4 linked regions of the Homo sapiens genome follow. The protein of the gene in region 3 purifies or fractionates together with the protein of the main gene of each other region. This does not show direct contact. Each region holds a gene or a part of one and is shown on either strand. Other genes may lie near its edges. The genes, in order: CTSH, ACP3, AIRE and SMC3.

What was found.
Region 1: the proteins of AIRE (region 3) and CTSH purify together in Homo sapiens (affinity purification with mass spectrometry; 2 studies listed by BioGRID and IntAct, with this or other methods). This does not show direct contact.
Region 2: the proteins of AIRE (region 3) and ACP3 purify together in Homo sapiens (affinity purification with mass spectrometry; 2 studies listed by BioGRID and IntAct, with this or other methods). This does not show direct contact.
Region 4: the proteins of AIRE (region 3) and SMC3 purify together in Homo sapiens (affinity purification with mass spectrometry, with the first as the bait; 2 studies listed by BioGRID). This does not show direct contact.

Annotation. Positions count from the first base shown.
Region 1 is NC_000015.10:78,921,036-78,928,059, forward strand, and holds the end of CTSH (pro-cathepsin H isoform a preproprotein), read right to left. Parts: intron 6,747-7,024; coding exon 6,678-6,746; intron 4,406-6,677; coding exon 4,299-4,405; intron 2,084-4,298; coding exon 1,958-2,083; intron 1,171-1,957; coding exon 1,095-1,170; 3' UTR 23-1,094; downstream 1-22. UniProt on the Homo sapiens protein: Important for the overall degradation of proteins in lysosomes.
Region 2 is NC_000003.12:132,312,935-132,320,408, reverse strand, and holds the start of ACP3 (prostatic acid phosphatase isoform PAP precursor), read right to left. Parts: upstream 3,003-7,474; 5' UTR 2,953-3,002; coding exon 2,833-2,952; intron 1-2,832. UniProt on the Homo sapiens protein: A non-specific tyrosine phosphatase that dephosphorylates a diverse number of substrates under acidic conditions (pH 4-6) including alkyl, aryl, and acyl orthophosphate monoesters and phosphorylated proteins.
Region 3 is NC_000021.9:44,281,959-44,288,892, reverse strand, and holds the start of AIRE (autoimmune regulator), read right to left. Parts: upstream 3,018-6,934; 5' UTR 2,887-3,017; coding exon 2,755-2,886; intron 2,337-2,754; coding exon 2,162-2,336; intron 1,916-2,161; coding exon 1,760-1,915; intron 1,377-1,759; coding exon 1,302-1,376; intron 549-1,301; coding exon 435-548; intron 1-434. UniProt on the Homo sapiens protein: Transcription factor playing an essential role to promote self-tolerance in the thymus by regulating the expression of a wide array of self-antigens that have the commonality of being tissue-restricted in their expression pattern in the periphery, called tissue restricted antigens (TRA).
Region 4 is NC_000010.11:110,584,675-110,591,698, reverse strand, and holds part of SMC3 (structural maintenance of chromosomes protein 3), read right to left. Parts: intron 2,095-7,024; coding exon 1,991-2,094; intron 1,808-1,990; coding exon 1,708-1,807; intron 1,288-1,707; coding exon 1,127-1,287; intron 709-1,126; coding exon 567-708; intron 1-566. UniProt on the Homo sapiens protein: Central component of cohesin, a complex required for chromosome cohesion during the cell cycle. The cohesin complex may form a large proteinaceous ring within which sister chromatids can be trapped.

The sequences.
Region 1 (7,024 bases), on a different chromosome or scaffold from region 3:
TTGTGGTCTTATGTTACTAGAATTTTCTAATAAATTAAACTATATTTGCATTATCTAAATAAGCCTTATCATGAACATATATATTTTTCAAATATTCTCAAGCCTTTAGCTTTTCAGGAAGCCCAAATAAGATGACAGCTTTTATCATTAAGAAAGTCTGTGAGCCATAGGACAAAGAGCTGGTGGACTCCAGCTTGTTCTACAGACATCCCAGAGCCCGGAGGCTTCAGGAAGCAGCAGCAACTTCATGGCCGCCCTCTAAACAGAGATCAAGATTTCTCAAAAGGCAAGATAAGGGAAGGGATGGTGTGGAAACGACAGGAGCATCTGGGCACGTTTGAAATAAATAAGGGGTTGGTGAGGAAGGGGTGGGCAGTCTCATGTGGAGGTGGGGGGCAGAGTCTGAGTAGGAGTAGGCAGCTGAGACTGGGGAGGCCACACAGAGAAGTACAGGCTTCTGGGCTGACATTGTGGGTTTGAATCCTGCCTCTGCCGCAGCTTGGCCCGTTTTTCTCCTTCCTCCCCACCTCTCCACTCAGGTTTGGGACAAATAGTCAAGATCTCAAATTAAGCCTGCTCTTCATCCTGGATACCCCATCTGGTGGATAATACCGCCAGCACCCCCACCATCCTCCCAGCCAGAGCCTGGACACCCCCTGATGCCTCCCTCCTGGGAGACTGAGTGGCGAGGACAGACCTGGTTTGAGTCATGGCCCAGGACCAGCATGCTCCATCTGGGGAGGTGCTCACTCAATGTTTATTGAACAGCGAATACAGAAAAGACAGTCCCTGGAGCTCTATATGTGGAAAGTAGCCCTTCTGGACAGAAAGAATATTCGTGGTCCATGTGGTTTGAGTCTGTTAAGAAGGACACTAAGGCACATGGCTGGTGATCTTTGCGTCATAGACACGGGTGAGCTCATGGTGGAACTCCTCCTTGTCTGTAGGTTTCCAGGCTGGGCACAGAGGTGAGGGCAGAATGTTGGGGGTCCCAGTGGATCTCCCCACAACTTCCTCCAGGGCAGGATTTCCACCCAGGCCCAGGCTGCCCGTTCCTCTCCTTCTCCGCCAGTCTGCGCTGCGGCTGCCACGGCTCACACCAGAGGGATGGGGTAGGAGGCGCAGGCAGCCAGGCCACACATGTTCTTTCCGCGCTCGATGAGGAAGTACCTGGGCAGAAAGAGGAGCTGAGGCCCGGCCGGCGGTCTCCCCACCACAGGCCTTTCTAGAATGTTTTGCTGCTCACCAAGAGCTGACTTCAGGGGTGAGACCCTCTAAATTTATTCATAAAACAGTAGCATTCGGCTTATTTGATCACCGGCAAATCACGGACCTGACTTTGTGAAGAATTCATTCTTCCCTCTCCTTAGCTGCCAAATGAATGATCCATATCCCACTTCTCCCGAAAATTTACCGAGGGCCCCCTCTTAGCCCTGGCCGGGCCCTCACACAGCTATTTTATCACCAGGAGCCCGAGGGAACAGGAAAGCTCTCCTTTTCAGACAAGGACATGGAATCTGGGAGGACAGGACAAAGGCACAGCAGCATATACACCCAGGCCGCCCCATGCCAGCCTTTTCTCCCGGAAGGAGGGGCTGTCAGTGATCAGGGGTACATTTGTTGCTTTGATTTCTCAAAGACGGACCCTCCCAGACACTGATTTCGTGCCAGCAGAGTTCCAAGTTCTGAGCTGTTTTCCTAGCAGTCCTTCTGAGCCAGCTGGCCTCCTGCTCTCCCTGCAGCGTCCTAAAGACCTGGGGCCCTGTGAGGGCTGCAAATGGGGGCTTGGAAATGTGGAGGCTACATTCTCATGCTCCCTTTCCCCCTGGCCTGGCCTAGGGCTTGGCTGACCAGCTCGTCTGTGGAAGCCGTAACTCTGAGGTGGAAGTGATGCCCCCAGGGCCTCCAGGCCTGAGCAACATCCCCCTCCCAGAAGTGGGACCTGGGAGCTGCTTACCCGTTCATTCCCCACTGGGGACCCCAAGAGTTTTTCACGATCCAGTAAGGGATCCCATTTTTTTCTCCATACCCAACAGCCAGTACTGCATGGTTTACTTTATCTGGAGTTTTATGGCAGGAAGTACTGGAAAACAAAATTCAAAAAGAGGTGATCATATGGGAAGGATAAAAGCAATGACAGTCCCATCCAACAACGCCTCTTTGAGCGCTTTAGAGCAATGTTCCCCACAGCGGACCAGGGAGGCATGTAAGGTGGTGATGTAATCACATTTAGTCTCCGTGAGAGAACTCCTTTCAGTTCTTTTTTTCTTTTGAGACGGAGTCTCACTCTGTTGCCCAGGCTGGAGTGCAATGGTGCAATCTCTGCTCACTGCAACCTTCACCTCCAGGGTTCAAACGATTCTCCTGCCTCAGACTCCCGAGTAGCCTGATTACAGGCGTGCACCACCACACCCAGCTAATTTTTGTATTTTGGGTAGAGACAGGGTTTCATCATGTTGGCTAGGTTGGTCTCGAGCTCCTGACCTCAGGTGATCCACCCACCTCGGCCTCCCAAAGTGCTGGGATTGCAGGTGTGAGCCACCGCACCCGGCCCTTTCAGTTCTTTTGGTTCTTCTGCTTCTGTCAGGAGAATCTCCATATGGTGCTGGCCCGTGTCTCACCCCTGACACTTTCTACTCCCTCTTTCCTGGCAAGGAGAGAGCCACCTTCCTGCTGCACCTTCTGTAGGCAACAGTGTCTGGCAGACTTTAACACAGCTTTGCTTTGTTGCCACTGCATTTATTAAATATTACTTTATACCTATGGCAAAAATACAACTTTTTCTGTTTACAAAAGTGAACTAGCCTCCATAAGGAAATTCCAAGAAATTCAAGAGAACAAACTGCAGTGGTCAGGTGTGAATTCAGCTGATGTGTAAGTGGGCCATAGGCTCGCGCCAGGGCCAGGTGCCGGGATCCAGGCAGCATGCATAACTGTCCCTTGGAAGCCCTGTTTGGCAGGGAGCAGGTTGGCAAAGAGGCTGCTTCTCTACAGTGGCCTGAGGGCTCTGACAGTGGGAGGGCGACAGAGCCCCCAGGAGGTGGGGGGGATCCAACCCAGCGGGGGGGGGGGGGAGGGTGGGCAGGGTGGGTCAGGGAAGGCTCCCTGTGGAGGCGGGGAACGCCCATGGAACTGCGAACCCTTCTGCGTGGCTGGGGTGGGGGCTGCAGGGTGGAACGGCGGGGACGGGTTTGATGGCAGATGAGTGTGGAAAAAGAGGGAGGACCAGATCATGAGGGTCCCCCTCAGGGTAGGACCCTGGGAAAGCAGGGACACTGGTGTGTTCAAAGGTTGGCGTTGGCAAGAGGAGTGTTTCAGAAGGCAGACAGCTCCCAGTGGAAGCTGGAACAGTGTGTGGGGGGTTAGGGGGTCCAAGGACAATGGTGACCAGGGCAGAGCCTCAGGGAGGGAGAGGAGAGCACAGACGTGAGTGACATTAGTGAGTGACGTTAACGGGCAGCAACTGATGAAGGGAGGGAAATGAGGCTGCAAACCAGGCAGGCGAAAAGGTGTGGGTGAGAGAAACCCCATAGTAAAGAGGCTAAAGCTTGGTTTTTCTGAAGAAGCCTGGGGTGACTCCTCCAGCACAGGATCCTAGTGTGTGAGGGCAGCTACTCTTCTCCCTATTTTACGTCTTCAAATCTTTAAACATGGGTATTTTTTTTTTTTTCTGAGACAGAGCTTTGCTCTGTCACCAAGGTTGGAGTGCAGTGGCACGATCTTGGCTTAGTGCTACTTCCACCTCCTAGGTTCAAGCCATTCTTGTGTCTCAGCCTCCCGAGTAGCTGGGATTATAGGCATGCACCACCACGCTGGCTTTTTTTTTTTTTTTGTATTTTTAGTAGAGATGGGGTTTCGCCATGTTGGCCAGGCTGGTCTTGAACTCCTGGCCTCAAGTGATCCACCTGCCTCGGCCTCCCAAAGTGCTGGGAGTACAGGCATGAGCCACCACGCCTGGCCTGAACATGGGTTTTTTTTAAACTGGAGGCAACTCTTCTGTTAAGGAGCACAAAGCTCTCAAATTTTGGCCCTAGCTCTCACTAGCCAGGTGGCCTGTGTCTGTCGTATCCCTTCTGACCACCTCTCCTTTGCTGTGAGAAGAGGCCATGGCTCCTGGCCCTTGGGGCTGTGTGAGGATTAACTGAGGGATGTGCAAAACGCCCAGCACCTGGCAGGTGTCATGAAGGGTCTGACACACAGGAGTCTGGGCCACGAGCCCAAGTCCCACGAGTGGGGTGTGAGGAGGCCCACCAAGCCCCTCCCCACTGTCCCTCCTGGCTCCTGGGACCCTGACTCACCTGGAGTAGATGCCGGTTCTATACATCATGAAGTCCTGAGTCACCTCAAAGGCAAAGCTCACAGGGTTGTAGAGGGCCACAGCCTCCACCATCGCTTCCTCGTCATACTGTGGAAACAGGACCGAGACAGAAACACATGGCCTGTCACCTCCCCACTCCTTTCACAGTACAGCCTTTTGCCTCAAGCTAGGGGCTAGAGGCCCAGAGCAGCATGGATGGCCAGAAGCAGCTCCCCTGCGGCCTCTCTCCCTTCCTGTCTCTGGCTGGGTCTGTCTGGCCATCTCTCGTTCCTCTCCCCAACTCTGCTCCTAGGAAACCCTGCACCCTCTGAGATAGGGACCACGGGGTACAGCGTGGACCTACTCATTCAGTCATTCACATCCATTCCCTGAGGTCCTCTCCTGGGCCAGCAGCTCTCACCCCTACACCCATAAACCCAGAGTCTACAAAGCTTTGCTGCTAGAACACAGGGGTTATAAACCATGGACGGGTAGGTCCCAGATGGCGGTGGAAACGAGAAGACCCATCCGAGGGCTGTGTGACTTCTGAGTAGAACCTGTCCCCTCCAAGGGGGAAGGTAGGTGGGGGGAAGTCAGGGTGGCTTCCTGGAGGCTGCAGCTTTGGAACAGAGCTGCAGAGACCAGGTGACAGCAGCAGGTAGAACCCCATGCAGAACCTTAAAAAAACCCCAAGTCCAGGCTGTGCCTCAGACCAACTACAACAGTATCTGCAGGGTGGGTCCCAGGCATTGGCACTTTTTGGAGCTTCTGGGTTGGGGGTGGCTGGGTTCAAGTGCACTAACCAAGAGACCTCTGGGAGCTGAAATGAGGGGGGAAGTTACCTGTGCTGAGGCCAGGGCCCTACTGAAGGAAAGCAAGTGCAGGAGGGACGGGGCGCCCAGCCTCCCTCAGTCCTGCCTCCCTAGAGGGGTGGACAGAGACCCAGCTGTGAAAAGCAAACAGGTGCCTGGCAAGGGAGTGCCCTCCTTCCTGGTATGTGGACAAGGCCTTGTGAGCCCAACAGGTCAGGGCATATCTGAGACATGGAGGGCACAGAGGCCAGCCCAGCACAGGGGCGATGACTTCTGCAGGTGGCACCATTTCCACCCCATGGGCCTGCCCAAGAGGGCTGAATGCTAGTTCTGGCCTGGTCGTCAGGGCCCTGCAGGTGTCACCAATGAGGCTCTCCTGGGGACCATGCAAAGGGATACCTTTGAGGCCCAAATTCACCTGTCCTTGGGATATCATGGCCCAGAGCAGCCAGCTTGAGTGACAGCAGCAACATTCTGAAGAGGGTGACATCCTGAGTACAGGATTTGCGCTGTATGTTGTCAAGGCAATGAGCCCTGGTTCTGGAATGACACATTCTTAGTTCAAATCCAGCATCTATTTCCTAGCTCTGTGGCCTTGGGCACATTACTTAACCACTTGGAGCCCCCGTTTCCTCACCTGTCAAATGAGGTAATAAGGATACTCATCTCCTAGGGCCAGTTCGGGTCTAGAGGGGATAGTGCGTATTGAGGGTTGGTACAGCACCTAGAAGTACTCCATCAAGTTAAGATGTTATTGCTGAGAGCTTGGCACATGCTTCAACTAAATGGCAGCCGCTGTCATTACACAGACATCACGTTTGTGAACTGTACATACATTCGTGGGCGCACACACAACCTAAGCGATATTCCTCCACTCCTCACACACCCTCCCACACTTGCATGCATGCACACTGCAGTCACGAAGGCGTTCATTCACGTTCCAGTTCTCTCTGGGAGAAGCAGGGTAAGACCACACTTCCCTATTCACTTGAGGTCAACTGTGACTGGGCGGCTTGTTTTGGCTTTAGAGCTAGGGCATCATTTACCACCTTCTTTCCCTCTAGTCCTGGCGTGAGGCCAATGACACGGAGCACACACCACCCTCCCTAAGCTGTGCATGGGCGCAGGAGTGCCACACACCCTTTGACTGTTGTCAGCCATGCAGATTGGGCACGGTTGTTATTGCAACAGAACCTGGCTCATCCTGAGTGACACACACTCACCCTCCTCAGTTTCACACACGCTGTGTCAAGCACGTGCTCATACCCTCTTCTGCAGGATGCGGACAATTGCTTGCATTTTACAAGCAAGAAAACAGAACCAAAAGAATGAAGGCATGTGTGGATCTGGAGTTCAGAACCAGAGGGCCTGCCTGCCAGTTTGCGCTCTCCCTCCCATCTCCTGCCTCGCCACCATCACAGCGACTGAGACCCAGGGATAATATGAACTCGTCAAAGGGATGTGCTGCCAGAAGGGCTGCCTTGCTGGGCCCACTGGCTATCCGACAGCATGAGAGAGGCCTCCTCATCAGGACACATTCCCCATCCCAGAGGGGGATCGGCACTCACGATTGTGATGTTGGCTACATCCTTGACAAAGCCGATGGCCTTTCCAGGTTGGAACTTGCAATAACCATCCTGTTGAGGATGCAAAGGGCATGAAATACAGGTTATGGACCCGAAGTCTCAGCCTCCCCACGCAGTTCAATAACATTTACTAAACAAAACAAGATGTGCCAGGGCCTGGGGGATGGGATAATTTCAGAGAGAATTAAAGCATCCTTGTCCTCAAGGAGCTTAGGGTCTGGTAGCAGATGGTCCTGTGCTGGCTTTGGCAGAGGTGGGCACACATGGTGTGTGGTGGGAGCCTGAGGAGGGGCCTCACCCGGCCTGAGGAAACTCACTGAGAAGTGGAG
Region 2 (7,474 bases), on a different chromosome or scaffold from region 3:
AAGTGGGTGTGTGTGGGAAATGAGTGGCTATGCAGATGAAACAAGATTGCATGGGTGATAGTCTTTGAAGCTGGTTGATGAGGACATCCAGATTCACCATATTTACGATTCTTTCCATATAAAGTTAAAAATGTCAGTTCTCTCAGTGTTTTCTACAGGACATTGGGGAAAAAAAGAGGGAGGTGAATGCTGTAATCAAAATTTTGAAAACAGAGTTTGGAAAACACTAGATCCTTTCCTTGAAAGCCACAGTGCGTATTAGCATGTTAAAGACTTAGGATTACTGCATTAAAGAGACCTTTTAAACACAGTTTAACCCAGTTCTATTCCCAAAGCTAACTTGACTATTGAAACTGATTTTTTCCCCATGTACACCTGTTAACAACTTGTCAAACTAGCATTTCATGGGTCACAGGCACTTCAGTTAGTCCGAGAACAAGAACCAAGGACAGTTTCCTCCTCTTTCTGCTGAGAACAGCTTTTCAGAATTGGGGAGGATTTATTTTTCTCGGATCACAGAGGAAAAGCAAGGGAACCACCTGCTGATTCAGAGTCAAGCTAATCCAGCAAACCTTACAGGGGGATCTCAGACTAGCTCCATGTGCTGGGTTATATACACACAGCAGGAAAAGACCATGTCTAGTGATAAAGGGAAAGGCATCCGGGGTCAGAGAGCCTGGGTTCAAATTCTGTCTCCACCATTCCATCTGTGTGACCATGGGCAAGATGCTTAACCTTTTTGTGCCTCAATTTCTTCATCTATAAAATAGGAATAATAAGTTTTACAAAACTTTATAGAATGGTTGCCAGATTTGGCAAATAAACATACAGGATGCCCAAATATTGCATGGGACTAAAAAATTATTTGCTATTTATCTGAAGTTCAAATTCAAATGGTCATCCCATATTTTATTTAACGACCTTATTTTAGAGGATTGTTGACAGGCTTATGTGATACAATTCATATTGAACACTCAGAACAGTGCCTTGTAAGCACTCAATTGCAGTAAGTACTTGCAGTAAGCACTCAATTGACTATTGGTTATTATCATTAATATTACCACTTTAGTTATGGGCATCTTTTAAAACAATTCTGGTTCTCCTAATAATTTTCTAAGAGTTATCTCATTTGTATAAATTAACCACTTATAGTCAAATATTCTCTTTAGTCAATAAAAATAAGAAACTGATGTTTATTGGCTTAAGTACTTAGATGGACGTTGTTTTATAAGGGCCAAGAAAGATGTATTAAATGGCCCTTCATCTACCATTAATGGAAGGAAATCATGGTAGGAAAAAATAGTTAACACTGGCTTTGTGCAATATTTGTTAATTTTTTTAGTTCTAAGAGAGCTAGCTTTGTATTTTGGCTTTCCTCAGGAAAGAATTAACTTGCAGTCCCTGAATATAGGAAACCCACAACAATTTGGTAGTCAAAGGAAGTTAGCCTGGGCTAACTTGGGTAAAACATGGAGGAGGGAATACATCATGTACAGTGAGCTTGGAGTAACTTGGATTTCTCAGAGGACTGCCACTCAACCAGCTTGTCACAGGTTTACAGTATTACAAGCACGGCAGATGCAGTACAATTTCTACAGTCCCTAAACTTGCCTCATGCACATGTTAGCAAGAAAACTACTGATAGAAGTACAAGCCTAGCTCACATGGGTTTCCCTAAAGAAGGCACACAGTATTATATATTTTTTTTCTGCACAGAAGTCTGACAGCTGGTGAATCATTTGTAAATAAATTGATAGTTTGTTTCACTGGGTTTTCTGTCATTGTTGACTCATGACCTAGTAAGGATTTACTGGACTATAAGAATAATGATTCAAATAAGCACATGGGTATCATATTTTCTGTAGAAAGTAAAGAGCTTTGAATATCCCATGCTGAAAAAAAAAAAAGCCTGAACTTTAATTTTTAAGGAAACAGTGACTTTCCTTCAAATTATAAAAATAATTTTTGAGTATTCTTGACAGAAAGAAAATTTACCTACTTATCAGCCCACTTTCACTATCTCAAATAAAAAAATGTAGGGAAGAGAAAGAAAACGAGAGAGGAAAGGCAAGAAGCAGCTTAGAGGCTTAGAGGCAGAGAAAGAGTGAAACAGAAGGAAAAAAAGATACAGAAACAGAAAATCAGACTCTTAGGTAACATGATGAATCCCCTTCACTTTGCAAACCCTCTTTCCATCTATTTTCAAACAATGTCAACAGTATATTTTCTTTTCTTGATATTATGCATCAGCCACCCCCCACCTTTTTTCATAACTGGTCACATGTGCCAATGATTTTAATCGTCAACTAAATCTATATATCAGAAAATCATCCTAAAATTCCAAATTTAGATTCACTTTTATGCTTCAAGGTTGTTTACAAATAGTTGTTCTAATTTCCTGATAAACAAAGGTGAAAGGACTACTTAATTCAGAAAATGACTGTTTTTTGGCTTGCAAACAAATAATGATTAAATTGAATGAAGCCAGCTCTTGGTACATAAACAGCGCCAGCTGTGGTTTCTTCTGGACTGGTGTGGCTGTCAAAAGGAATCTGAATTCAAGGCAGTTGTAAAGTAAGTAAATAAATAACATCAGCAAAAGCAAATAAAAAGCAACCCCTAAAAAAACAGCGACCAAAAAATATTTTTGTTAGGACACGTTAGGTCTTCATTAAGAGGAACTTGCAAAACTTGATTATTCACTTTCTGAGTTTGAACAGAGCCTGGTCTCTGGGAAACAATCCAAGGATAAGATGAAACCTGACGCTTGCCTTATCAGACTTTGCTGGGAACACAGTTTTAAGGAAAAAGCAATGAGAAAAGTCTACTTACCAAAGTCACAAACTTCAACTCCTTGGCTAGTACACTTCGGTCTAGCCAGAAAAAAAGCAGAAACAAGAAGCCAAGGCTAAGGCTTGCTGCCCTGGCCAGGAGGAGGGGTGCAGCTCTCATGTTGAGGAGAGCTGTTTCTGGCAGGAGTTAGGAGGAACTGCTACCACTTCAAAAGCCTGTAGAGGGGAAGCTATTTAATTAAGGGATTGAAAGGGAAGGAGGAGCCACACTCATAAGTAGTAAAGTTTCCAGGAAGCGTAGGGCAGGTTTGGTATGTAAATAATGTCATGTAAATTTTGAGCTGAGAGAGATCACAGTTTCCCCATTTAAGTTAGGACACCAAGGCCAAGAGCGGGGAAAGCTGTTGATCAAGGTCACAGAGCATGTTAGCAGACATTTCTATCCTTGTTTTCAGTTTACTTTTATCTTTGTTTTTTGTTTTTTTTTTTTTGAGACAGAGTCTTGCTCTGTCATCCAGGCTGGAGCACAGTGGCACAATCTCAGCTCACTGCAAACTCCGCCTCCCAGGTTCAAGCAATTCTCCTGCTTCAGTCTTCCTGAGTAGCTGGGATTACAGGCGTGCACCACCACACCCGGCGAATTTTTGTATTTTTAGTAGAGACGGGGTTTCACCATGTTGGTTAGGCTGGTCTCCAACTCCTAACCGCATGATCCGCCTGCCTTGGCCTCCCAAAGTGCTGAGATTACAGGCATGAGCCACTGTGCCAAGCCAGTTTACTTTTATCTTTTCTTTAGATAGGGTATGATACAGCGTTGGATTTGTGGCTGTCACTTGGGAAAGGGATCTACCCTGACTTTAGAAACCTTAGACCAGTGATTCTTAATCTGTTGGGAGTCCAAAGTTATAGGACTGAAATCTGGAAGGAAATACAGGTGTTGACATATTTGGGGCCTATTTCCATGCCAAACATGGCTACTTTTTCAAAAACTCTCATGTAGCCTATAGAGGTATTTTTAAATTAAAGAAGAAAAGTAACAGCAAGTTTATTTTGAAAAATTTTAGGCTGGGCGTGGTGGCTCATGTCTGTAATCCCAGCACTTTGGGAGGCCGAGGTGGGCAGATCACTTGAGGTCAGGAGTTAAGACCAGCCTGGCCAGCATGGTGAAACCCCATCTCTACTAAAAATACAAAAAAAAAAAATTAGCCTGGCGTGGTGGCACATGCCTATAGTCCCAGCTACCTGGGAGGCGAGGCAGGAGAGTCACTTGAACCCAGGAGGTGGAGGTTGCAGTGAGCCGAGATTGTGCCACTGCACTCCAGCCTGAGTGACAGAGCAAGACTCCATCTCAAAACACAGCAAAACAAACAAACAACAACAAAAAACAAACAAAAGAAAAATTTTAGTCACACCTTAAGACAATTGGACATTACCTGTGGTATCTCAAAATTAGATTGGAGGTCCCTTTCCAAACCTGACAGAGTTTTTTAAGAAAGCAAAAAGCCCAAACCTACAATTCTATATTATTAGTCATCAACTTTGGCCATAAGCCTTAAATTTTGAGTGAGTTACATCCTTGCCTCTCCAGCTATGATCTCACTGGGGACACTACAAAAGGCGATCCAGACTGATGGAACTTTGCTTTCCATTTTCCCCAACCTGTCAGTTCCATCATAGGCTAAAACAATACAAACTTGAGGTGCACATTGAGATTTTGCAAGATTTGGGGGCAGAGCTGCCTGTCATGATATTTCTATCATAATGGCAGAGGGAGAACAATGGTTTACCCGCAACCTGTTTCCTGGTACATTGCGCTTACCTGTGGCAGGAGGATTGTGTTCTTATGTGATCATAGGATGCCCTGGAATGTGGTATATGGGAGAACTGTTCCTTCTTCCGGCAGTAGGAAACATGCGCAAATAGGCTGGGCATGGTGGCTCACGCCTGTAATCCCACCACTTTGGGAGGCTGAGGTGGGCAGATCACTTGAGATCAGGAGTTCGAGACCAGCCTGGTCAATGTGGTGAAACCCCATATCTACTAAAAATACAAAAATTAGCCAGGTGTGGTGGTGGGAGCCTGTAATCCCAGCTACCTGGGAGGCTGGGGCAGGAGAATCACTTGAATCCGGGAGGCTGAGGTTGCAGTGAGCTGAGATCACACCACTGCACTCTAGCCTGGGCAATAGAGTGAGACTCTGTCCCCCCTCCAAAAAAAAAAAAAAATGTGCAAATAATAAATGCATGTGTGATTAGGATTAACCATTCAAGGGAACTTGCAACTTTCTCTTTGCCATCACATTCTCGACCTGCCAGTCTACACTGTCAATTTTAATGAGTAAGATTTTGAGGAAATGGGTGCAAGAAAAAGGAAATAAAAATTGGGAGGTTTTCCAGTCCAGGGCATACATGAAGTTGATACATTAATCCCTGCTGTGTGCACCAGGCAATCTGAGAAAGGAAGCTCCAGCACCTATGTACCATTCACAGGCAAATTTCTGAACCACATTTCTTAAATTGTGCCAGATGTCTGCTTCTATTGAATGCCTTATTTTCTCAGCTATCTGCCTGGGTCCTTGTTCTATCTCCTTCCTTGTCTCACCCTTGGACTGGTGCTTGGAACTATTTCAGCAATAGCCTTAGACCTTCCTGATAATGAAGACTGATTTTATAATCTACCTATACCATGTTGCACTGGTTGGATAAACCCTCTTTCTGACCTAGACCCTAATTTTTTCTGTGGTACCGCCTGTGGGGTCCTTTTAGCTCTTCAAGTGAGAAGGGCAACAACAACAAAGTTTTCTTTGAAAACCAGAAAAAGCCTGCTTGAATTGAATACATCTCAACTCAAACTTAATCCAAGTTGAATTAAATGGTTTATACTTCTATCTCAATCATCATCCTCACTTCCACTTTGATCATTCAGTTATAAGGGGAGAAGAAGTATTCAAAGTCATAAATGTAGAGTCTTGAAAAACCTGAACACCATGAAATGGAGTGTAAAAGATCCTCAACTCAGATGAAACCTGTTTTAGAATGTTCTGTGGCACCTTGAACTTTGAACTCAATAAGGTCTTTGCAAAGACATAAGGGTCATCTGGGATAAATATATGGATATAGTATGTATTAGTCCACGTTCATACTGCTTTGAAGAAATACCTAAGACTGGGTAATTTATAAAGAAAAATAAATTTAATGGACTCAAAGTTCCACATGGCTGGGGAGGCCTCACAATCATGATGGAAGGTGAAGGAGAAGCAAAGGCACATCTTACATGGCAGCAGGCAAGAGAGTGTGTGCAGGGAAACTGCCCTTTATAAAACCATCAGATTTCATGAGACTTAATCACTGTCACAAGAATAGCATGGGAAAAGCCCTCCTCCACGATTCAATTACTTCCCACCAGGTACCTTTCATGACATGTGGGGATTATGGGAGTTACAATTCAAGATGAGATTTTTGTGGGGACACTGCCAAATCATATCATAGTAACATCAAAAGTGAGATTTGAAAAAACACTGGGAAGTCTTTATGTAAGAGTTTAGGGTGTCAATAATTTTCCATGATTAGTAGGACTTACTGACTGAATCACTTGTGTTCTCTTGTTGTACTTCTTTCTCTATATGTCAAGTGCTCAACCTCAAATGAACTGTTCTAATGAACAGTTAGAAAGTTCCATAAGTGGAGCAGGTTAGGATTTTTGAAAATCAGACTCCCAGATAGATATTTGCATGTAGGAAGTTTATTAAGGAGTGCACTCAGGATTAACTCCAGTGGTGGGTAGAGAAATAACCAAGGTTGGGCAGAGGGAGAAGTTGATTTGTAATGCAATATTGTTGAAGATGTCAGCTGACCCTGTTACAAGTTCTGAAGATAGGAGGGCCTTTCAGGGTTGTCTTGAATTGAGGTGAGGAGCCAGGCCTTTTTTATTAGCCAGTCATTGGACGTAGTCTGCCCCTGGTAGGGAGTATGACCATGGATAAGGCAAAGGTGACTCTCTTCTGCCAAAATAATTCCCAAAGGGGTTGCTAGCTGAGTGATGTCAAACAAATTTCCAAGAGCTAGGAGCAATGAATCCTTGGGCAGTGTAACACAGAATCTATGATGATGAACACTTATAGGAAAAAAATTGTGATCCTTAGTAGATCACAGCCTATGAAAGCACTAAATATGCCTCTGACCATAAGAGTCTGAGTTGGGAGGTGAGATCCATCAGTAAGTATATGGCTGTTCACCAGCATCACAAGGAAGACTGTGTTTAACCTGTCTGGCTTCTTATGGCCTTCATAATTGTATTATTTGACTCTCAGGGCCTTATGAACTATTGGGTACTCAATAATACTGATTGACCAACTGTCAATATAAATGCAAATGACTGCATCAGAGCCCTGTTACAATGTGAATTGCTTTGAGGCAAAATTTAATAAGATGGCTTTAGAATAAATGTTCTCCTCTTCTCAAACCATCATTTTGTGGAGGGCCTTTTTGCCCTCGGCATAAAATAACTATTTTATTGTTTAGTATTTAGACAAACATCCCCCATAAAACCAAAGACTGTATCATAAGAATGTCATCAACTAAGGTGTGTGTACCTAGGGGATTCATGCAATGGTCTAACACTTTAAAAAGTAAAGAAAGTGTTAAAACTTTTATTTCTGTTTATTTTTTTACCTAAGAAAGAAA
Region 3 (6,934 bases):
GCCAGGGAATGGCGGGCGAGGATGCTGCAGGCTGGCCAGGGTATGGGGGGCAAGGACGCTATGCTACAGGCTGTCCTGGTTGAAGAATGCCGATACCCTGGAGGGTCTCAGCAGCACAGGCAGAACTTTCTAAGGATGCAACCCCATGGCCCAGGAGGGCCCATGCACATGGATGGAGGTGACTGGGGAGTGCTGTACATCCCGGGTGGGGATGTGGGCCTGGACCGCTGGCCTTGCAGAAGGTCCCCCGACAGGGAGACTTCAGTGCTCACCCTCCTCCTCCAAAGTCAGCAGAACCACAGGCAGAAACTCTGGCTACCTGAGCAACAGTCCGGTCTGCTGTGGGACCACCAGGATGCAAAGGGGCGTGGTCCTCCTTCCATCTTGGAGCCTGGGTCTCCCCATCAGCCCCATCTCCCCGCCACAGCGTCTACCTGACTCAAACACCTGCTGGATGAGGATCCCCTCCACGGCCCCTCGGGCTCCCGGGACGTCCCCGGAGGACATGGCCACAGCTCTCTGGACTGAAGCTGACATGGTCTGAATCCCTGGGAAAGGGAACACCCATTGGGGTCACCCGTGGGGAAGACTGTTCCCAAGCACATACTCTATGCCAGAAGCAGGCAGCACTGGGCTGCAGAGCCCTTTCCTTCCAGCCAGGGCAGGCCAAGGAGGGGACCCAGCCCTGCCATGTGCAGACAGCCCACAGGTAAGTGCAGAGACATGAGAATGTGTGTGTTCGTGTGTGCACCCAAGTGTGCGTGTGCTGGGGGGTGGCAGTGTCAGCAGAGCTGGCACAATGGATAGGAAGGCATGACCAATGACCAGACCCACCCCCCCATGACATGGGCCCTGTATTGTGCCGGGAGGGACACAGAGTTCCTAGGCTCTGCCCTCAGGGAGATAGGGGGTCTCTGGAGTCCAGTGCCCTGGGAAGGAAGGAGAAGGGGACAGGAAGGGTTCAGCCTGCATGCAGCTGGGGGCCAGGGATGATTTTCTGGAGGAAGCTATGTCTAGGCTGGTCCTGAAGGATAGGGAGTGGACGGGCAGAGAAGGTGCCTGAGAAGGGGGTCCCAGAACCAGGGTGCAGTGGGGGCAGGGGCGACTGGCAAGATCATGCTTAGACCCAAGGTGTCCCCTTCCTGGGTCTGGTGGTGCAGCTTAGGCCCTTGGAATGACACACCAGGCCAGCACGTCCCCAGCCCCTAGGACAGGGTCTCAGAGGGCAGGCCCTGCTCTGACCCCTGACCCCTTGCCCCTGGCCAGGGAGAAGGGAGGCGCTCCCACTGGGCCCCGCTCACCGTTCCCGAGTGGAAGGCGCTGCTGCTCTGCGCTGCTCTCCGGCTTCTTGGGGGGCTTGGCCTTCAGTTGAGAGCCTGAATGGGGGAGCTGGGGGCAGCCTGGCCTCCCCTCTCAGTGGGGGTGAGTGCCGGTGGGCAGGGGCCCGCGGTGGGAGGGCGTGGAGGGGGCGGTCCAGTGCTGGGTAGTCCCTTTGCCGGGCTCTGGTTTCTCATCAGTAAAAGGGAAATGAGACCCGCCCGCCTACTTCACCAGCTCCGGGGAGCTCAGCCTTCAGGCAGGAGGGAGCTGAGAGGCTGGTCCAGTGTGTGGGTCTAGTACCCAGAGGAGACCCCCACAGCCCCAGGCAGGCTGGCCCCACACCCAGTGGGTGGGAGCCCGGGTGGGGAGGGGGCGTGGGCTCCCGGGGAAGCCCGGGAAGACTGGAGACCCTGGCTGGCTTCCCCTGCAGGGAGGGTACCTGGGCTGGCGGTGCCCCTTGGAGTCAGGGCTGCTGGCGCGGCAGCTCGAGCCTCTTCTGAGGCCTTCCTCTTGGTGGGGAGTCTGGGTGGCGGTACCAAAGCCTTGGGGACGGCCGGGGGCTTCCTCCCCTTCCGGGGCTGGCTGAGGTCCACATCTGCAGCTCAGGGGCAGGAGCAGGGTCCCAACCTCAGGGTTTTCTCCAGGGGTAGGGTGGGCCCCAGAACTGGACACCTTGGCCAGACAGGTGAGGCCTGGCCCCTTTGCCTCTTAGGATCCAAGACGGTCCTGGAACATCACCCACGGGCTCCTCAAACACCACTCCGGTTCCAGTCCAGCTGGGCTGAGCAGGTGACAGCAGCTGCCCCAGGCCCCCAGCATGGCTGAGTCCACCAGGACCCACCTTTGGGGAAGCTGTCCAGGATGGGCTGCAGCCGGCCATAGCGCTCCAGGTTGTAGTCCTTGAACAGCACCCTCCAGAAGTCCAGGATGGCTGTGGAGTCCTGGGTCAGCAGCCAGGACAGGAGGGCGTGGAAGGCCTGGGGGCAGCCCTCCTTTTCCTTCAGATGAAGCGTCTCCTGCAGTGGGGTGGCATGAGGGTCCCTGCCATGGTCCCCCACACCCTGCGGCCTGCCCATCTCCATCATGACTAGAGGGTGGAGCTCCCAGGCAGAGGCGCTGGCGACCTGGACAGCTCCACGCCCATCTCCTCGGCTTGTGGTGGAGTCAGGTGGTGGTGTAGGGGTGTTGAGGGTGGGGCTGGGGGAACCTGGAGGCCATTCCCTTGGCTTGGGGGTGAGGTGTGGGGACGGCTGGGGGAAGGGGACCAACTTCTAACTTGTCATCAGGGACGCCCCTGGCTCCTTGTGGGGAGGGAGTTGGGGAAGGCTGGAGGGGCTTGGGGATCTGGAGGGGCGGGGTCCTCCTGGAACTTCCCCGGGGACTATCCCTGGCTCACAGGGCCTGGGGGCAGCGGGGGGCGGGCGGGGAGCCCACCTGAAACTTGTCCTCGGGGACCACGTCGTGGTCAGCCAGCGCGTGCAGCAGTGGGAAGGCGCTGTCCACGGCCACCGCGATCTCCGTGCGGTGCAGCCTCAGAAGCCGGCGTAGCGCCGCGTCCGTCGCCATGGGGTGGGCGCGGGGACCCGGGGCTGGGGCGGACGCGGTGGGTCCCGGGACACTGGCAGCCCCTCGCTTGGCCTCGGGTCCCGGCGGGGCTGTGGGGCCTCCGCGCCGGCTGTGCGCCCGCCCGTCTCCCCGGTCTGCGAGCCACGCGCGCCGCTGTTATACCCCCGCGACCACGCAAAGAGCAAAGGCCGCTCCGCCCCGGCGCCCAATCAGGGCCAGGGCCTCCCGCAGGGACACTTCCCTGTGATGGAGGCGCTGCTGTCCCTCCCTCGCTCTCGGGAAGTCTCCGGGCCTGGCCTGACTCACCCACCAGGGCAGCTGCCTTGGGGGCTGGGGACAGAGACTCGCTCTGTGCGGGACTCAGAGAACTCTCACTTCCGAATGTGGCCCTGTCCTGCCTCGGCGAGGGCCCTGCTCGAATGGGGCAAAGCCGAGACAGGTGCCCTCGGCGGGGAGGCTCGGGTCTCAGGGCCCTGGCAGGGGCTGCCCAGGGTGCACCGGCCCCTCCCAGTGGCCGGCAAGAGCCTCCATGGAGGCTGGATCGGGGTGGTGTTCCTGGGGGACCTCCACACAAGCTGAGAGCCCCTACTCAGGGGCCCGCCTGGGGCTGTGGGAGGAGCCCGATGGAGGCTCAGTCTGATGCAGGAGACGGTACGGCAGCCTGGGTGTTGCCAGGGAGCTCCTGACCTCACCATCTTAGGCTAGCTGTGTGACGCCAGGCAAGTCCTTTCCTTCTCTGAGCCTCGGTTCCCTCATCTTTAAAAGGGGCACACTCGCCTGGGGATTGAGGCTCGCATTGACCCCCTCCTTCCTTCCTCCAGGTGCTTTAGAAGGAAGGCGGCCAGCCCCACAACGGGGGTCCTGAGTGTGGCCCTGAGTGAGAGCTCCCAAAGGGTCTTCCTAGGACCAGTGACAGAGGCTGAGGGATGCTGTGGCCTGGACAGGAGCTTCCGGGGGCATCTGGGAAGGTGTCCGGGAGGGGAGCTGCAGTGGACAGGAGCCGAGGGTCCCAGGTGGACGTGAGTGGGGACAGTGCCCCCAGTAAAACAAGACCAGGTGCAGAGGCCTGGGGCCTGCAATGATGCTGAGGCTGTGGTGGCCCCGCAGGCATGGCCTGGAGGGGGGGTGGCCTCAGTGGGAGGCCTTGGTAACAGTCCCCTTGTCTGTGCGGTCAAGCCAGGGAAGCAGGCCCTGTGTGCAGGCTGCAGAGAACCACGAGAGGTCTCTGGGCACGAGTGTTCCCACTGAGCCAGAGAACGAGATGACCTGGCCAGCATGGATTAGGGCTGAAGGGTGGACGAAGGTACCAGGAAGCCTGAATCCAGGCAGCACTGGGCTGGGGGCTAACTGATGCAGTGAGAGACGCCACCAAGATTCCCACGTGGGCAGGCGTGCCGTTTGCTTTTGGGCAGCCAGAGTCCAGGATGGAGAGCGGCAGACACCTCTCCTCTAGACCAGGGGTCGGTCTCGGTTTCTCCTACCGCCTTCAGGCCCAGGGTCCCCCTGAGCGTTCTGCACGTCTGAGATTGCTCCGGAAAAGACTCTAGGGGTGTTTGGGAACAAACCTGGGGAGGAAGGTGGGGCCAGAGGTGGTGGCCGAGGTGGTCAGCCTGGGGTCAGGTGCTGGGGACGTCATGGGGAGCTGAGGGGGAGGGGGTCCATCTCAGTGGTGGCTGTGGAGTATCAGGCAGTGCAGGGTTGGAACAGGCTGGCTCCTGTGTGGAATGTCCTGGGAGCCTTGAGCGGGGAGCAGGGCCCTCTCGCTGCCCAGGCCTGGGCGTCTCTCACTCCCTGCACTGCGCCTTCCGAAGACCCCGAGAGGGAAGCCCCCTGCCTGCATGCCTGCCTTGCCGGTCCCCGCTCCAACAGACACATCCTGTCCCCAGCCAGGCCGGGCTGCTGCTCGCTGGGTTTCCTGCCCTCTCCCCTGCAGTTCTGTATTTACAGCAAAAATATTTAAATAACTGCAAGCGAAAGTTGCACAGAAGCCCAGCTTTGCACAGGATCCCTGTCTGCTCCTGAAACACCCCCATTCTCCTTGCTCATCCATGGGCAGGGGTCTCACGAAGGGAGAGCTCACTAACATCAAGTTCAATGGCAACCCTTGGGCCCACTGGCTGCACAGTTCATGCATAAAAGCCCCTGGGGTGCCAGGGAACCAGCGCACACAGCTTTGGGATGACCAGTAACCGTTGCTCCCAGCAACTTGGCTTTCCTCTCCTTTGAGGCTGTGGGGAAAAGAAAGAGAGATCAGATTGTTAATGTGTCTGCATAGAAAGTAGACATAAGAGACTCCATTTTAATCTGTAACCCTACCCCCAACCCTGTGCTCCCTGAGACATGTGCTGTGTCAACTCAGGGTTAAATGGATTAAGGGCTGTGCAGGGTGTGCTTTATTAAACAAATGCTTGAAGGCAGCATGCTCGTTAAGAGTCATCACCACTCCCTAATCTTAAGTACCCAGGGACACAAAACACTGCGGAAGGCCGCAGGGACCCCTGCCTAGGAAAGCCAGGTATTGTCCAAGGTTTCTCCCCATGTGATAGCCTGAGATATGGCCTCCTGGGAAGGGAAAGACCTGACCGTCCCCCAGCCCGACACCGTAAAGGGTCTGTGCTGAGGAGGATTAGTAAAAGTGGAAGGAACGCCTCGTTGCAGTTGAGACAAGAGGAAGGCATCTGTCTCCTGCCCGTCCCTGGGCAATGGAATGTCTCGGTATAAAACCCGATTGTATATTCCATCTACTGAGATAGGGGGAAACTGCCTTAGGGCTGGAGGTGGGACAAGCAGGCAGCAATACTGCTCCTTAAGGCATTGAGATGTTTATGTGTATACATATCTAAAGCACAGCACTTAATTCTTTACCTTGTTTATGATGCAGAGACCTTTGTTCACGTGCTTACCTGCTGACCTTCTCTCCACTATTATCCTATGATCCTGCCACATCCCCCTCTCCGAGAAACACCCAAAAATGATCAATAAATACTAAGGGAACTCAGAGGCCAGCGGGGGTCCTCCGTATGCTGAGCGCCGGTCCCCTGGTCCCCCAATTTCTTTCTCTATACTTTGTCTGTGTCTCTTTTCCAAGTCTCTCGTTCTACCTAACGAGAAACACCCACAGGTGTGGAGGGGCAACCCACCCCTTCAGAGGCCATCCTGCCCCAAAGTCACCCCCTGCAACCCGGTGGCTTTTCCCTCCCCAGATGGTTAAGTGAGTCAATGGATGCCTTAGCCCAGAGATGGTTAAAGGGGAATTAAAAACTGCAAAGCGAGATCCAAGTCTGCACTTCACTTTTTAAAAAAGACCTGCAGTCTTTGCGGGTCACCTGTGTCATTGGGCTGGGGCCTGACCCCTGTGGGCAGGCGTCACCCAGCCTCTTGCATGGAGGTTTAACAAAGAGGCCCCTGTAGAATTTCGGACTTTCCACCATGCCGTGGGGCTTTCCACACCAGCCCCTTGCCCGCAGGTGACATGGAGCCGCCACGGCTCCCTGGAGGTGGCACAGACCCCTGGAGGGGGGTGAGGGGCTGGGGACTCGGCCCTGTCTTCAGTGGGACTGATGCCTTTGTGGGACTGAGCCTCAGTTTCCCCAAGAGGCACCTGGGCAGCAGAGCTCTGGGACAGTATTGGGCTCCATCCCTGAGCCCCGTGTCCTCGGCTGGAGCGGGAGGGCCCCGCAGCCCTTTCTCCCACATCTGTGCTGTGCCCTTGGACGCCTGCGGACCTGCCATGCCCCGGGCTAGGCCCTGAGAGCTTTGTGATTCTGCTCACTCCATCAGCAGAACGGTCTCCTCAGGTCATCATCGTGATTAGTGCCATCCACAGATATGGAAACTGAGGCCTGTTGCCGGGAGGAGCTTGGCCAGAGTCACGCAGCTGCTAAGGGGCAGAACCACGACTCGGACCTTGATGCACGGAAGAACAGAGGTTCTCCAGGTCCATGCTCCTGCTGTGCCGGGTGCCCCTCAGGTGCCCAGGTCACGTCAGATGTTCTCAGCCTGCAAAGTGGGGGGACGCGGCCCATGTGATGTGTATAGAAGTTGGGAG
Region 4 (7,024 bases), on a different chromosome or scaffold from region 3:
CAAAGCAATTACACTGTTCTAAGAATGGTGTCTGAAGAATATTTTTAATCCACCTAAAGTGCACTTTTGTTACCAACAAAAGCAATGTTATGCTTCCGAAGTCTATCACCTTACTAGCCATTTTTTTCATTTAATCCTAAGTACGTCAAGACACTTTTAAACTATACATGACAGTTCCTTGGGAATCTTTCTCCAACTCCCTAACCTTAATTATGTCACTCCCAGATATGCTCTCAAAGTATCCTGTACTTACGCTTTTAACACTGCACATTTGCAATGATTTGTTTCATATCTTAGCTTTTTTCTCTTCTTTTTAAATGATCCTCCCACTTCAGCCTCCCAAGTAGCTGGGATTACAGGCGTGCATCACCACACCAATCATAGCTGTGACTTCTGTCTCCCTCCCCAAAACCCACTCAGCACTAAGGTCCATGGGAAGACAGATATTTTTATCTCATACACCACTGAATCCCAGTGTATAGTGCCTGGGCACTAGCATGTGTTAGATTATGTGATAAAAAATAACATTATAAAAGAGAAATACACCTTATCACACAATGACTCACATTGGTTTCAGGATAGGCTGTATCCCTGACATCTAACTTGTTAAGAGGCAGAAAAGTAACCTCTCCAGGAAGATTCATTTTATTAAACTCCATTAAAATCTTCGTGCTGACTTCATCTGAATCAACAATGTGATAAAATAACCTAAATATAAACAGAGTAAGACAAATCTTTATTGGTACTCAGGGTCTCCCTATGTTGCCCAAACTTATCAATCCTCCCACCTCAGCCTCCTGCATAGCTGGGACTAAAGGTGTGCACTTTTAAAATGTTATAAACACTTAAGCATCAAACAGTTTTTTCCTATATAATCCAAATAATTTTGGAAAATAAGACTACTTTAAAAATTCCAATGGCGGGGAGGGAGAAACTCCCAAAAGAGGAAAGTTCTAGCTTCTATAATTAGGAACAAATACTTAGCATCTACTTCTTTAATTAGAAAGTTAAGGAACCGAGATATAAAAAGATAATGGAAGATATGTTGTACAAAAACTACAAAAGTTGTTTAAGCTATTCTTATTCCCTCTTCTAAAAATGCTAAATATCAAGCAAAAGCTTTAACCTGTTTCCAGCAGTGACTTCCACGCATGTGTAGAAAGCTGGTTCACATTCAAAGTTATTCATTACAATACCATGATAGCCATTTTGAACATGCTGGTTTATTCCTTTTCGACGGAAGTGGTCTAGCACTTTGTTTATGCTGTCTATTCCATTTAAAATGGCCTGTAAGTTGTCAGAAATGAAAAATATTAAAATAATATCATCAATGGCACTCCTGGTAAGGAATGAGCCCACAACACCATACATTTTAAAAATATACCAGTGATTAAACTAAACATCCTCTCCAACAAACACATCACCTCCTCACAATATGCCAACTACATGTAACACCTTATATGATAGGCTCTGTTCCATAACAGTAGTGTTAAAAATGGGCTCTTTATCTGAACATCAAAAGTGCTATTAATAGTATGTGTAGTAATAAAACTATTTAATCTCTATCATTTCATATTTAGAAGATAATTTGGACTCCTATTTATCACTTGGAACCCATGACCTACACCTTGAAAGGTAAAAAATTATTACATAACGATTAACTCAATGACTCAGTGTAAACAGAGGTGATGAAAAGAACCTGCCCACCTTTCCTGTTGCTGCTCTAAGAAGTTGTTGCTTCTTTTCAAGATCTTCTCTTTTAGCAGCAAGTGCTTGCTGTTCTGCATTCTCTTCTCTCCACAAGTAGCTAATAAATAAAAAGTAGACTGTCTTTAATTTTAAACACATATGAGGATGCATTAACAGTATACAGTTTAGAATCAAAATACAGAAAACAAGCCTGACCGGTTAACTTGTAACTTAAAGACCACATAACAGCTAGTAACGAACATTACTGAAAACATTAATGCACATTTTAGTCTATACTAACTTTCTTTCACTTTGTAGTTCATCTTTCTTATTTTTTACTTCGTAATATTTTCTGTCCAGTTCTTCTACTCGAGCTTTGACTTCATTAAGATCCTGGTCCAGTTTCTATGGAAATAAAAATAAATTTAAAATTCAATTTCATGAAACTAATCTACACTGATAGAAAGCAGATCAGTGGTTGCAGATGGATGGGGGAGGCGGACAAAAGGTGAGGGAGGAATTACAAAGGGGTATGGAAAACGCTTTTGGGTAATAAACGTGTTTATTGTCTTAACTGTGGTGTGTGGTGTCTTAACTGTGTGGTGTTTTACAGATGTATACGTATGTCAAAACTCATCAAATTATATACTTTATTTTTGCCACTTTCCTGACTAGGAAAAATGATGTACACTAAATATGTACAATTTACTGTATGTGAATTATACCTCAATGATGCTGTTGAAAAATCCAATTTCAGTTTGTTTTTTTTGTTTTTTGTATTTTTAGTAGAGACGGAGTTTCACCGTGTTAGCCAGGATGGTCTCGATCTCCTGACCTCATGATCCGCCCGTCTCGGCCTCCCAAAGTGCTGAGATTACAGGCGTGAGACACTGCGCCCGGCCCCATTTCAGTTTTTAAAAGTTGTCTTTAGGCAAAAGAGCATACCACACCAGAAAACACAAACCATTAAATACTATAAAACATGTTGCTAAAAGTTAATTTGTTCATTAGTGATCTAAATCTTCCTATTTCTATAATATACACTCCAGAATTTTAGAAAAAAAATTCTAAGTTCTCATAATAGTCCATTATATACTTTCATACTGCCCCCTCTACACACACACACAACAGAACACAAAAACTATTTTCAACTATTTTACATTCAAGAAAAATGAGTTAAAAATCTTGGCAGAACCTATAACAAATCTCTAAGAACCTAACGTAAGATGCTGTTTCCTTAAGGAGAATTAATGAACTGTATTCATTAATTTAGTAGACTATACTGAGCTGAAAAAATCCAATAGCCTCACTGGCTAGAGTTTAAGGAAGCTGACACTTCATCCACTTAGTGAAGTTACCAAAACCCCAGTATGTACCAGGCATTCTTAGAAGAGCTGGGGAATCATAAAAGACCAAAGCAAACAAAAATCCTTGCCTTACTGGGAAGCAATAAGACAAGCAAAATAAAGCTGAAGATCATCCTTCAGGGGAAGGGCTTCAAACTGCTTCATAAAGTAATTACATTCATCTGTTTGTATTATAACTAATTATTGTCAGATATCAAAGTAATTGTAAATATTCCCACAGAGTACTGACAATTATTCATCCTCAGTAGTAACACTGACTTTTTGTCCAAAATTTTAATGGACAAAAGTCAATGTTACTACTAATTCCACTGACAAAAAGTCAATGTTACTACTGAGTCACAAAATCTTAGATTGGCCGGGCGCGGTGGCTCACACCTGTAATCCCAGCACTTTGGGAGGCCGAGGTGGGCAGCTCATGAAGTCAAGAGATGGAGACCATCCTGGGCAACATCGTGAAACCCCGTCTCTACTGAAAATACAAAAATTAGCCAGGCGTGATGGCACACGCCTGTAGTCCCAGCTACTGGGGGAGGCTGAGGCAGGAGAATCACTTGAACCCAGGATGGGGAGGTTGCAGTGAGCTGAGATTGTGTCACTGCACTCCAACCTGGTGACACAGCGAGACTCTGTCTCAAAAAATCTTGGATAATCAGAATGACTTTTAACATCTTGGATAATTAAACCCTTTAATTCTACACATAAGGAATTTGGGACTCAGTGGTATCTGAAACCATAAAAGAGTTAACAAATTCCCTAGGTAAAATTTAACTTTTCTGCAGCAATTACTTAATTCATCCCCAGGCTATCTGAACACATGCTAAAAGAAGAGTATAAACCTTGAAGAGTCAGTTTTCCTAAATTAATGTTTCAACTTTTACAGTCCTAAACAATTCAGACTGTTGTGTTATTAACTAGCATTACAGCTTACAATATTTCTTTTTTTTTTTTTTTTTCTTTGAGACGGAGTCTCGCTCTGTCGTCCAGGCTGGAGTGCAGTGGTGCAATCTTGGCTCACTGCAAGCTCTGCCTCCCAGGTTCACGCCATTCTCCTGCCTCAGCCCCCCGAGTAGCTGGCACTACAGGCGCCCGCCACCACGCCCAGCTAATTTTTTATATTTTTTAGTAGAGATGTGGTTTCACCGTGTTAGCCAGGATGGATGGTCTCGATCTCCTGACCTCGTGATCCGTCCACCTCGGCCTCCCAAAGTGCTGGGATTACAGGCGTAAGCCACTGCGCCTGGCAGCTTACAGTATTTCTTAAGTCCTACATACTTTGTTTTTTTCCAGGTGTATCTGAACACTAATGGTTCCCTTTCTGACACCATGATGCTACTCAGAACCAGTAATAAAGTAAGCTACCTATATTAAATTCAAAATATAATGTTTTGTAGACTTTATTAAATGCATTACAACCTGGAAAAGAGAAAACATTTAGTTTGCACTGAAACTATCTAAGAGCTTCCCCTTCTCCACAGCAGTTGCTACGGCCAAGATACCACTGACATAAGTTAGAAAAGTCTAAAAACTTAAGTTTGATAAGTATGTAGGATATGTATCACATAAATGAACTGTAATAAAGCATAATAAAACCACCAAAAAGACATTTTATTTTTCATACTGCAGGTTTTAAAAATACACTGTGGAAAAATTAATTTAGGATTATACCAAGAGGCAAAAGCCTATTTACACCGGGCGCGGTGGCTCACGCCTGTAATCCCAGCACTTTGGGAGGCTCAGGTGGGCGGATCACCTGAGGTCAGGAGTTCGAGAACAGCCTGACCAACATGGTGAAACCCTGTCTCTACTAAAATACAAAAATTAGCCGGGAGCAGTGGCGGGCGCCTGTAATCTCAGCTACATGGGAGGCTGAGGTAGGAGAATCGCTTGAACCCAGGAGGCAGAAGTTGCAGTGAGCCAAGATCGCACCATTGCACTCCAGCCTGGCAACAGAGTGGGGCTGTCTCAAAAAAAAGGCTATTTACATAACAAAATCAGCGCCATAAAATCATCTCTGTCCAAAGGAAAGGCTTCATCTTTACAAGTGGTCATTCTGATAACCAAAAGTGTGGCTGGAATACTGGAAAATAATGAACTTCAAGCATGACAAAAAATGAATAAATTCTCTCACTGGAGGCACCTTCAAAAAGGGCATCTGCTGAGGTTGGTTTCATAAACTCAAGAGAAAACTCATTTTATTTCAAGAAAGGAGGTGTTAACTATCAGTTCAGACTATACTAACCATATAAAGAACTGCCTGGATTAACCCAACTTTTCCACTCCTTCCACAAAGTATCACAACTAAAACCCACAGCACGACTGGACTTCCAAAAACAGCAGGCTACACTCCTCGCAATTTTACCTACCTATTGTTTATGCCTACAGAGGCTGTTGTGTTTTCTCCCCACTATATATTTTTTTCTTTATGTAAAGTGAGAATATGAGTACAAAGTAAACAGCTCTTTCTTTAAAACTTCACTGAGGTTTTGGATACATTTAAAGGTGAGTCACCAAAAACTTAAAGTGGGCAAATCACTATAACAGATTAGGGGCCAGGCATGGTGGCTCACACCTATAATCCCAGCACTTTGGGAGGCCGAGGCAGGCAGGTCACAAGGTCAAGAGATCAAGACCATCCTGGCTAACACAGTGAAACGCCATTCTACTAAAAATACAAAAAATTAGCCAGGCGTGGTGGCATGTGCCTGTGGTCCCAGCTACTTGGGAGGCTGACGCAGGAGAATTGCTTGAACCCGGGAAGCGGAGGGTGCAGTGAGCCGAGATCGCGCCACTGCACTCCAGCCTGGGCGACAGAGCAACACTCCATCTCCAAAAAAAAGAGATTAGGGACAAATAATTATATATAATATACAATTAATAAGTACATAAATATTAATATATGTACTTTATAACAAATAATTTAAAATGTCAAGTCCCAAAAGTCAAGAAAAAACTGAAGAACTGGTCCAGATTAAAGCAGATAAAAGAAACATGACAACTAAATGTAACATAAGATGCTGGAATACCAAAAAATGAAGTTTTAAAAAAAAAAAATTACACCGGGCATGGTGGCTCACGCCTGCAATCCCAGCACTTAGGAAGGCTGAGGTGGGTGGATCTCGAGGTCAGGAGTTCAAGACCAGCCTGGCCAAGATGGTGAAACCCCACCTCTACTAAAAATACAAAAAAATTAGCCGGGCGTGGTGGCAGGCACCTGTAATCCCAGCCACTCGGGAGGCTGAGGCAGAGAATTGCTTGAACTCAGGAGGTGGAGGTTGCAGTGAGCTGAGATCATGCCACTGCACTCCAGACTGGGTGACACAGTGAGACTCGTATTAAAAAAAAAAAAAAAAAATTGTTACTATCAGCTGGGCACGGTGGCTCACGCCTGTAACCCCAGCACTTTGGGAGGCTGAGGCAGGCAGATCACCTGAGGTTGGGAGTTTGAGAGCAGCCTGACCAACATGGAGAAACCCCATCTCTACTAAAAATACAAAATTAGCTGGGCTTGGTGGTGCATGCCTGTAATCCCAGCTACTCAGGAGGCTGAGGTTGCAGTGAGCCGAAATTGCGCCATTGCACTCTAGCCTGGGCAACAAGAGCCAAACTCCATCTCAAAAAAAAAAAGTTACCAACAAGCTATTTTAGACATATGTTGTGACATCTTGTTAAATTAAGGGTATGTAAGACACATGCTACCAATTCATAAAAACATATTTTAAGCTGGGCACAGTGGCTCATGCCTCTAATCCCACCACTTTGGGAGGCCAAGGTCGGAGGATTGCTTAAGCCCAAGATTTCGAGACCAGCCTAGGCTACATGGCAAGACCTCGTCTCTACAAAAAAATAAATAAAAATTTTGCTGGGCCTGGTGATACATGCCTGTGGTCCCAGTTAGGAGGCTAAGGATGGAGGATCGCTGAGCCTGGAAGGTGGAGGCTGCAGTGAGTTGTGTTTGTACCACTGCACTC